Regions from separate parts of the Homo sapiens genome. Here all the other regions are linked to region 2. Evidence: fine-mapped expression QTL. A gene starts in region 2. Each other region holds a variant in brackets. All regions are shown on one strand. Distances are between the middles of the regions. Region 1 has its middle 41 kb from the start of CAVIN4. Region 2 holds the start of MSANTD3 (Myb/SANT DNA binding domain containing 3). Region 3 overlaps MSANTD3 (Myb/SANT DNA binding domain containing 3).

Region 1 (2,757 bases), 190 kb after region 2:
TTGGTTTAAAGTCCATTTTATCAGAGACTAGGATTGCAACCCCTGCTTTTTTTTTGCTTTCCATTTGCTTGGTAAATATTCCTCCATCCCTTTATTTTGAGCCTATGTGTGTCTTTGCACATGAGATGGGTCTCCTGAATACAGCACACCAATGGGTCTTGATGCTTTATCCAATTTTCCAGTCTGGGGGCATTTTAATTGGGGCATTTAGACCGTTTACATTTAAGGTTAATATTGTTATGTGTGAATTTGATCCTGCCATTATGATGCTAGCTGGTTATTTTGCTCATTAGTTGAGACAGTTTCTTCATATTTTCAATGATCTTTACACTTTGGCATGTTTTTGCAGTGGCTGGTACCAGATGTTCCTTTCCATGTTTAGTACTTCCTTTAGGAGCTCTTGTAAAGCAGGTCTGGTGGCTGGTGGTGACAAAATCTCTCAGCATTTCCTTGTCTGTAAAGGATTTTATTTCTCCTTTGCTTATGAAGCTTAGTTTGGCTGGATATAAAATTCTGGGTTGAAAATTACTTTTTTTAAGAATGTTGACTATTGTCCCCCGCTCTTTTCTGGCTTGTAGGGTTTCTGCCAAGAGATCTGCTGTTAGTCTGATGGGCTTCCCTTTGTGGGTAGCCTGACCTTTCTCTGGCTGCCTTTAACATTTTTTCCTGCATTTCAACCTTGGTGAATATGACTATTATGTGTCTTGGGGTTGCTCTTCTTGAGAAGTATCTTTGTGGTGTTATCTGTATTTCCTGAATTTGAATGTTGGTCTGTCTTGCTAGGTTGGTGAAGTTCTCCTGGATAATATCCTGAAGAGTGTTTTCCAGCTTGGTTCTGTTCCCTGTGTCACTTGTAGGTACACCAATCAAATGTAGATTTGGGTTTTTCACATAGTCCCACATTTCTTGGAGGCTTTGTTAATTTATTTTCACTCTTTTTTTCTCTAATCTTGTCTTCTCACTTTATTTCATTGAGTTGATCTTCAGTCTCTGATATCCTTTCTTCTGCTTGATCGATTCAGCTATTGATACCTGTGTATGCTTCATGAAGTTCTCGTGCTGTGTTTTTCAGCTCCATCAGGTCATTTATGTTCTTCTTTAAAACGGCAGTTAGCAATTTGTCTAACCTTTTTTCAAGGTTTTTAGCTTCCTTGCATTGGGTTAGAACGTGCTCCTTTAGCTTGGAGGAGTTTGTTATTACCTACCTTCTGAAGCCTACTGTCAATTTTCAAATTCATTCTCTGTCCAGTTTTGTTCTCTTGCTGGCGAGGAGTTGTGTTCCTTTGGAGGAGAAGAGGCGTTCTAATTTTCGGATTTTTCAGTCTTTTTGCACTGGTTTTTCCCCATCTTTGTGGATTTATCTACCTTTGGTCTTTGAAGTCGGTGACCTTCAGAAGTGATCTCTGAGTGGACATCCTTTTTGTTGATGTTGCTACTACTCCTTTCTGTTTGTTAGTTTTCCTTCTAACAGGCCCCTCTGCTGTAGGTCTGCTGGAGTTTACTGGAGGTCCGCTCCAGACCCTATTTGCCTGGGTATCAC[C/T]GGCAGAGGCTGCAGAACAGCAAAGATTGCTGCCTGTTCCTTCCTCTGGAAGCTTCATCCCAGAGGGGCACCTGCAGATGTCAGCCAGAGCTCTCCTGTATGAGGTGTCTGTCGGCCCCTACTGGGAGGTATCTTCCAGTCAGGATACACAGGGGTCAGGGACCCACTTGAGAGGGCAGATTATCCCTTATTAGAGTTCGAAAGCTGTGCTGGGAGATCTGCTGCTCTCTTCAGAGCCATCAGGCTGGGACGTTTAAGTCTGCTGAAGCTGGGCCCAAAGCTGCCCCTTCCCCCAGGTGCTCTGTCCCAGGGAGATGGGGGTTTTATCTATAAGTCCCTGACTGAGCTGGTGCCTTTTTTTTCAGAGATGCCTTTCCCAGAGAGGAGGGAGTCTAGAGAGGCAGTCTGGCTGCAGCTGCCTTGCTGAGCTGCAGTGGGCTCCGCCCAGTTTGAACTTCCTAGTGGCTTTCTTTACACCGTGAGGGTAAAACCCTACTCAAGCCTGGGCAGTGGCGGATGTCCCTCCCCCCACCAAGCTCAAGCATTCCAGGTCGAGCTCAGACCACTGTGCTGGCAGTGAGAATTTCAAGCCAGTGGATCTTGGCTTGCCGGGCTCTGTGGGAGTGGGACCCACTGAGTCAGACCACTTGGCTCCCTGGCTTCAGCCCCCTTTCCAGGGGAGTGAACGGCTCTGTCTCACTGGTGTTCCAGGTGCCACTGGGGTATGAAAAAAAACTCCTGCAGCTAGCTCGGTGTCTGCCCAAACGGCTGCCCAGTTTTGTGTTTGAAACCCAGGCCCCTGGTGGTCTAGGCATCGGAGGGAATCTCCTGGTCTGTGGGTTGCAAAGACCATGGGAAAAGCACAGTATCTGGGCCAAAGTGCACGGTACAGCCCCTAATGGCTTCCCTTGGCTAGAAGAGGGAGTTTCCCAACCCCTAGCACTTCCTGTGTGAGGCAATACCCCACCCTGGTTTGGGTTGCCTTCCTTGGGCTATACCCACTGTCCAACCGTTCCCAATGAGAAGAACTGAGTACCTCAGTTGGAAATGCAGAAATCACCTGCCTTCTGTGTTGATCTCACAGGGAGCTGCAGACCAGAGTTGTTTCTATTTGTCCATCTTGCCAGCAATCCAGCAAAAATCTCATAATGTTTTAAGGCAGTTTATGAATTTGTGTTGGACCACATTCAAAGCCGTCCTGGGCCACATGCAGCCCA
Region 2 (2,757 bases):
GAGGGAAGAAAGAAAGGGTTGCGTGATTCTTTGTACATAGTGAAAACCTAGATCAGTTTTTACTTTAGGGCTATGGATAGTGGGAGTTGGGAGGGCAAGCAATAGTCTCAAAAATGTTCAAGGAATTAAAACACAAAAACGGAAAATTGCAAGTGTTGACAAGGTTGTGGAAACTTGGAACCCTCAAACATTGGTGATGGGAATGTAAAATGATTCATTCAGCTGCTGTGGAAAACTTTTTGGCAGTTCCTGGAAAAGTTAAACATAGAATTACCCTATGACCCAGAAAGTCCACTCCTAGGTATGTATCCAAAAGAACTGGGAACAGGTACTCAAATATGTGTACAGGCATGTTCAGAGCAGCACTATTCACAATAGCCAAAAGGTGGAAGTAACCCAAATATCTATCAAGGGATGAATGAATAAACAAATTATAATATACACATACAATGGGATATTAATCAGCCATAAAAAGGAATGAAGTACTGATCCACGCCTCAACATGGATGAATCTTAAATACAGGCTAAGTCAAAGAAACGACACAAAAGGCCGCATATTGTATGGTTGCATTTATATGAAATACCCAGAAAAAAGTAAACTCACAGAGATAGAAAATAGCTGAGTCGTTGCCAGGGTCTGGAGGAAGGAGGGACTGGGGAATTACTGCTTAATGGAGTATGGATGTTTCAGAACTAGATAGAAGTGGTTGCTCAACATTATGAATGTAATAAATGCCACCAAATCGTTCGCTTTTAAGTGGTTTATGTTATGCGAATTTCACCTCAAAAAAAAAAAAAGTTAAAAAGCCTTCTCTGCCTTTCTCTGGGGTTGGAGTCTTCCCAATGGATCCAGGGCAAAAGAAACATCCAGCCACTCTGTTTGCGGGAGGAGCAAAGGGTGGCTTGTCCCGACAGTTTGAGCTGTTGTGCATGCATTTACACACGCATTAATTCCAAATGAGTCAGCACAGTGTCCGAGACAGGTCCTGGGCTCCAGTGAGCACAGTCGCTCTCCTGGGGGAGGCACGTTCCACAAATTAACAGAAGTTCTGATAAACTCAGCATAGGGGGATTCGCTGTCCCAAGTATCAAGGAGTCCTAAAAGAAAAGGGCCTATTTCAGTCGGGGGACCTGGACTGAACTAACTCGTGTTCATGGCCGCCAAATCCCGTGTGACAAATGTATTCTTTTGTTGTTCATAGAAATAAAACAGTTTTTCGGGCCGCTTCAGGAGCTCCTCTGCAAAGGTGGGGAAAAAAGGCAACTAAATCAGCACGAGGACGTCAGCCCGAGGATGTCAGGAGCGGGGTCGGTGCGGACGGGCAGGTGGGCGGGGGGGCACCCCGCGCCCCGCCCCAGTCCCCTGGAGGCCGGCGGCCGCAGCTCGGGGAAGTGGGGACTGGCGCGGGGCCGCGCTCCCGCCCTCCTCGGCGGCGCCGACGGACCGGCAGGCGGCGGGCGGTCCGCGAGGGGGCGGCGGCGTCCGGGCTTTGTGGCCGCGGCGCGCGCGGCGGGGCCTGGCCGGCCGGGGGCGCGCCGCCGCCGCCGCCGCCGCCCGGCGTTCGGGAGCCCGCGGCCCTCCCGGCCGCCCTGCTTGCGAGAGGAGCCCAGGCCGCCCGCCCTCGCGCCTCGCCGGCCCCTCCCCCGGTCGCCGCGGCTGCCGCGCCGCCGCTGCAGGTAGGAGGCTCCCCTTCCGGGCGGGCCGCAGCCGGGCGGGGGCGGGGGTGGGGGGCGCGGGCCGGGCGTAGAGGGGGCCGGGGGCCGGCATGGAGGGTTTTCGGGCCGAGCCGCTGCGACCCCGGCCTTGCAGGCTGGGCGCCGGGCGGCCGCCTCTGCGCGCCGCGATGGGACTCGGTGAGTAGGGCCGGCCTGCTGCCTACAAAGCCCCGGGGCGCGGGCCTCTGGGGTACTCAGTGGCGCGCCCACGGCTGGGAGCGGGGTGGGCTTTGGACTCCCGGGCTCGGGGAGCTGCTCGGGGGGAATCCAGGTGACCTGCAGTACCGCGGTCTTCCCATCCCGGCGTCCCCACTGTGTGCTGATCACTGTGCTCGGCGCTTTTCCATACTTGTCTCCTTTAAGACCTCCAGTGCCCCGCCCGTCCAGAGTGTAACGGGAGGGATCCCTCACTTGCAGGATGAAGGCCGAGCATCACATCCTTGCTTGACTGACCTTGGGAAAGCTCCTTTACTCCGAGCCGGGGCTACTGTTTCTGTAAATTAGAGGCGGGGGTCGGGGGGGCGTGGTATAATATCTACCCTCAGGTACTATTGTGAAAGATAATGTATGTAAATGATAACAGCTAAATTTTGAGCACTCTGTATGTACCAGGCCCTAGGTACTAAACAGTTGGCATGAATTATCATTGAATCATCACCCTGGCGCTGTGAGGTAGTTACTGTAAATTGCATGAATAATCTTTATTTAGGAGTACGAAACAGTGAAGAATTTAGTCTCCCTATTCCGATTCAGGAGGTTGGGTATTTCTTAGGCGTGATAACATTTAACATTACAGACGTTCCTGCAGTATCGAGGAGAGTAGTTATAGGATGCAGGGATATATTTGTCATACATTTAAAACTGGAGGTAGGATAATATCAGGGCCAGAGAGTGTGCCTTTCAGCATGTCAGAGCAGATGATTGTATTCCAAGGAAATTGCTGAATATTAATTAAAAAACATAGTTTCTGAGTTAGGATTGAGGATGGCTGTGGGAGTCCAGGGCCAGAGAGAGACATGGGATGGACAAGGGGGAGAAGAA
Region 3 (2,757 bases), 25 kb after region 2:
CTGTCAGAATAACAGCCAATAAAAACTACAGGAGCAAAACCTCTCAGGAAGGTGCTTTAAAAAAGATGCATGAGGAAGAACACCATCAACAAATGTCCATCTTACAACTGCAACTGATACAAATGAATGAGGTGCATGTGGCCAAAATCCAGCAGATAGAGCGAGAGTGTGAGATGGCAGAGGAGGAACACAGGATAAAAATGGAAGTTCTCAATAAAAAGAAGATGTATTGGGAAAGAAAACTACAAACTTTTACCAAGGAATGGCCTGTTTCCTCATTTAACCGGCCCTTTCCCAATTCGCCCTAAGACTTTGGGGGTGGCTCTCTTGTAATTAATCTGTGTTGGCAAAGAATGTCTGGAACATGGACTTGGCGGTCAGTAACCTGTAACAGAGCTACAACTAGGAAAATTAGAGTGGTAGTAGTCACTTATTTAAGAATTCATTCAGGTAAACAGCTGCACCCTCTGTACCCCTTAAGTGGCAAAGAAGCTGTTATAGTCTTCTGAAAATTATCACTATGAGTGCTATAATTCTGAATATAATGTCTCTTAATTAGAATTCATACAAGAACCACGTGTGAGTGTTGTTGTTGTTGTTTTTTTTTTTAATCAAATGCAAGTGTGACTATAAAGGAGTGTGGCTGATTTTTTTTTTTTTCTTTTTTCTTTTTAAACAGACAGCAGAACTTTTCTATCCAAATGAATGCCGTCCCATGGAAAGTGGCTGTCCTGGGAGGCTACACGTTTCTCCAATGGTGATGCTGTTGCTCAGAACTTGCTAGAGGTCTTTAGGGAACCTCCGTGAGAGCTGCAGCACCTTTTTAATTTTCTCGGTGTCATCCTCTGAGTATGGATTTTCTGTTTTTAAACAGCCCAAAGTTTAGAAGGGTATTTTCTAATGTGGCTCATAAACCACCTTTTAAGGCCTTTCCTCAAACAGGAGTTCTAAATAAGTCTCCAACAATAGTAGTTTTGTTGGAGCTAAGGATGTAACTACTTTGAGG[A/G]AGAAATGTTCGTTTAGATTTCTACATTCTGTTATGTTGGTTTTATTAAAAAAAAAAAAAAGACTTGCAATTTTATAGTCACACTGTGTATGTTTTTTAAAGGTGCTGCCTTCCCAGCTGTGCTCCAGTTTTTCTCTTCTCTCTCTAGTTTCCTCCCAGCTTTGTACTACTGAGTTGATAGTTGCCCTTGCTTTTAGTCTTTAGCTACCAAAGGAAAGGCCCTTCCCTCACCATGCTCATGGTGCTAGCCAGTAGTAATGCTTTGTAGCTGGCATTACATAATTAGCATTGGGCCTTTTGAGGATCCATTACCAACATATTCGGAAATATGGATTGATAAATGGATATTTTGACTGAGCTGCAGTATAGCTTCTCCTGTAGCCTCTTGTTAAAAACAGCCCCGGGTGTTGGGGACAGCAGTAGCTGGAAGCAGCAAAGTGACACTTAAGTGCCAAGGCAGATCAGCAGTTTCTGACAGTGAGAGTTCAAGGCCATGTGGTGGGGAAGGAGGAGTATATGTGGCAGAGTCCACATAAGTGGTATAGGCCTTGGAGTCAGGGCCTGAATTCTAAGCTCAACTCTCCGTCAAGTTGCCGTATGAATGTGGGTAACTCCTTTTAACCCTTGGTGTAGTGTTTCCTGTCCACAGAACAAGGGAGTTGGGCTAGATGACGTTCCAAGTCTGTTACAACTTCTTGGCTATGGTGTGGTCTGTATAGTCTTTTTTTTTTTTTTTTGAGACGGAGTATCACTCTGTCGCCTAGGCTGGAGTACAGTGGCACCATCTTGGCTCACTGCAAGCTCCACCTCCCAGGTTCACGCCATTCTCCTGCCTCAGCCTCCCGAGTAGCTGGGACTACAGGCGCCCACCACCACGCCTGGCTAATTTTTTCTATTTTTTAGGAGAGACAGGGTTTCACCGTGTTAGCCAGGATGGTCACGATCTCCTGACCTCGTGATCCACCTGCCTCGGCCTCCCAAAGTGCTGGATTACAGGCATGAGCCACCGCGCCCGGCTGGTCTGTATAGCCTTGGATGAGTACTGCCCACATCATAATCAGCTGGAGAGCATGGGTCAATAGGGAGAAATTGTTTACTGCAATGGCTAACCTTCCCTCCTGCATAATTTTGGAATTTGGGGACTGGGGACCATAAGTTTGGTAAGGTACACATATACTTGCTATTTATGCACAGCACACAAAACGGGTATGAATTTATTTTAAACACCGAATTATATTTTCAATGTCTTAGAGGAACTGGTTATTTGAAGAAAGCCTGTGAAGACTAGTCTTCTTTGAAAGAAAAGATCCTTTTGTAAGGATTTATGTTCTTAATTTAGTTTTTACCAAATGGACCCTTTTAGAGAAAGAAGCATCAGGATAAAGTCCCAATCTTCAGTGGTTTGTGGAAGAGAGAATCTGATGATTCATGCCCTCCTACCCTGTTAGAATTAGGACAGGGAATGGCAGACCCTAAACATACATGTGAACTGAGCAAAGATTGCCTTTGCTTCACCTATTGACACATTTAAGAACCTCGTTTTATAGAGAGTACGGAGTGGGGTCTGAGATTCTACATTTCTTACAAGTTCCTGGTTTATGCCAGTTCTGTTTGTCTGGTCACCACACTTCTGAATAGCAAGGTTTCAGAGGACTCTATGAAGTTTTTATTTCTCAAAAATTTGGCTTAGGTACATCTTTACATACAGTGGTGCTAGATATTATTCTTTCAGAACTTAACCATGCAACAAT

Evidence for each region. PIP is the estimated chance that this variant, and not a neighbour inherited with it, causes the effect.
Region 1: its variant is the best candidate, but not a certain one, in a credible set for the expression of MSANTD3 in whole blood (Lepik 2017, PIP 0.67).
Region 3: its variant is the best candidate, but not a certain one, in a credible set for the expression of MSANTD3 in unexposed skin (GTEx, PIP 0.55).

The regions. Positions count from the first base shown.
Region 1 is chr9:100,617,393-100,620,149 of GRCh38, forward strand. No RefSeq gene overlaps it. Among named protein-coding and RNA genes, the nearest start is that of CAVIN4, 41 kb to the left of the region's middle. RefSeq lists enhancers at 1,664-2,164, 2,165-2,665. The variant C/T (reference allele first, on the strand shown) is at 1,541.
Region 2 is chr9:100,425,717-100,428,473 of GRCh38, forward strand. It overlaps MSANTD3 (Myb/SANT DNA binding domain containing 3), which reads left to right and starts at 1,427. Exons shown (of 3, transcript NM_080655.3): 1 at 1,427-1,677. RefSeq lists silencers at 1,264-1,493, 1,534-1,763, 1,804-1,923.
Region 3 is chr9:100,450,659-100,453,415 of GRCh38, forward strand. MSANTD3 (Myb/SANT DNA binding domain containing 3) reads left to right here. Exons shown (of 3, transcript NM_080655.3): 3 at 1-1,076. The coding sequence ends at 308. The region is part of intron 1 of MSANTD3-TMEFF1 (MSANTD3-TMEFF1 readthrough); the gene reads left to right. Among named protein-coding and RNA genes, the nearest start is that of MSANTD3-TMEFF1, 10 kb to the left of the region's middle. The variant A/G (reference allele first, on the strand shown) is at 1,007.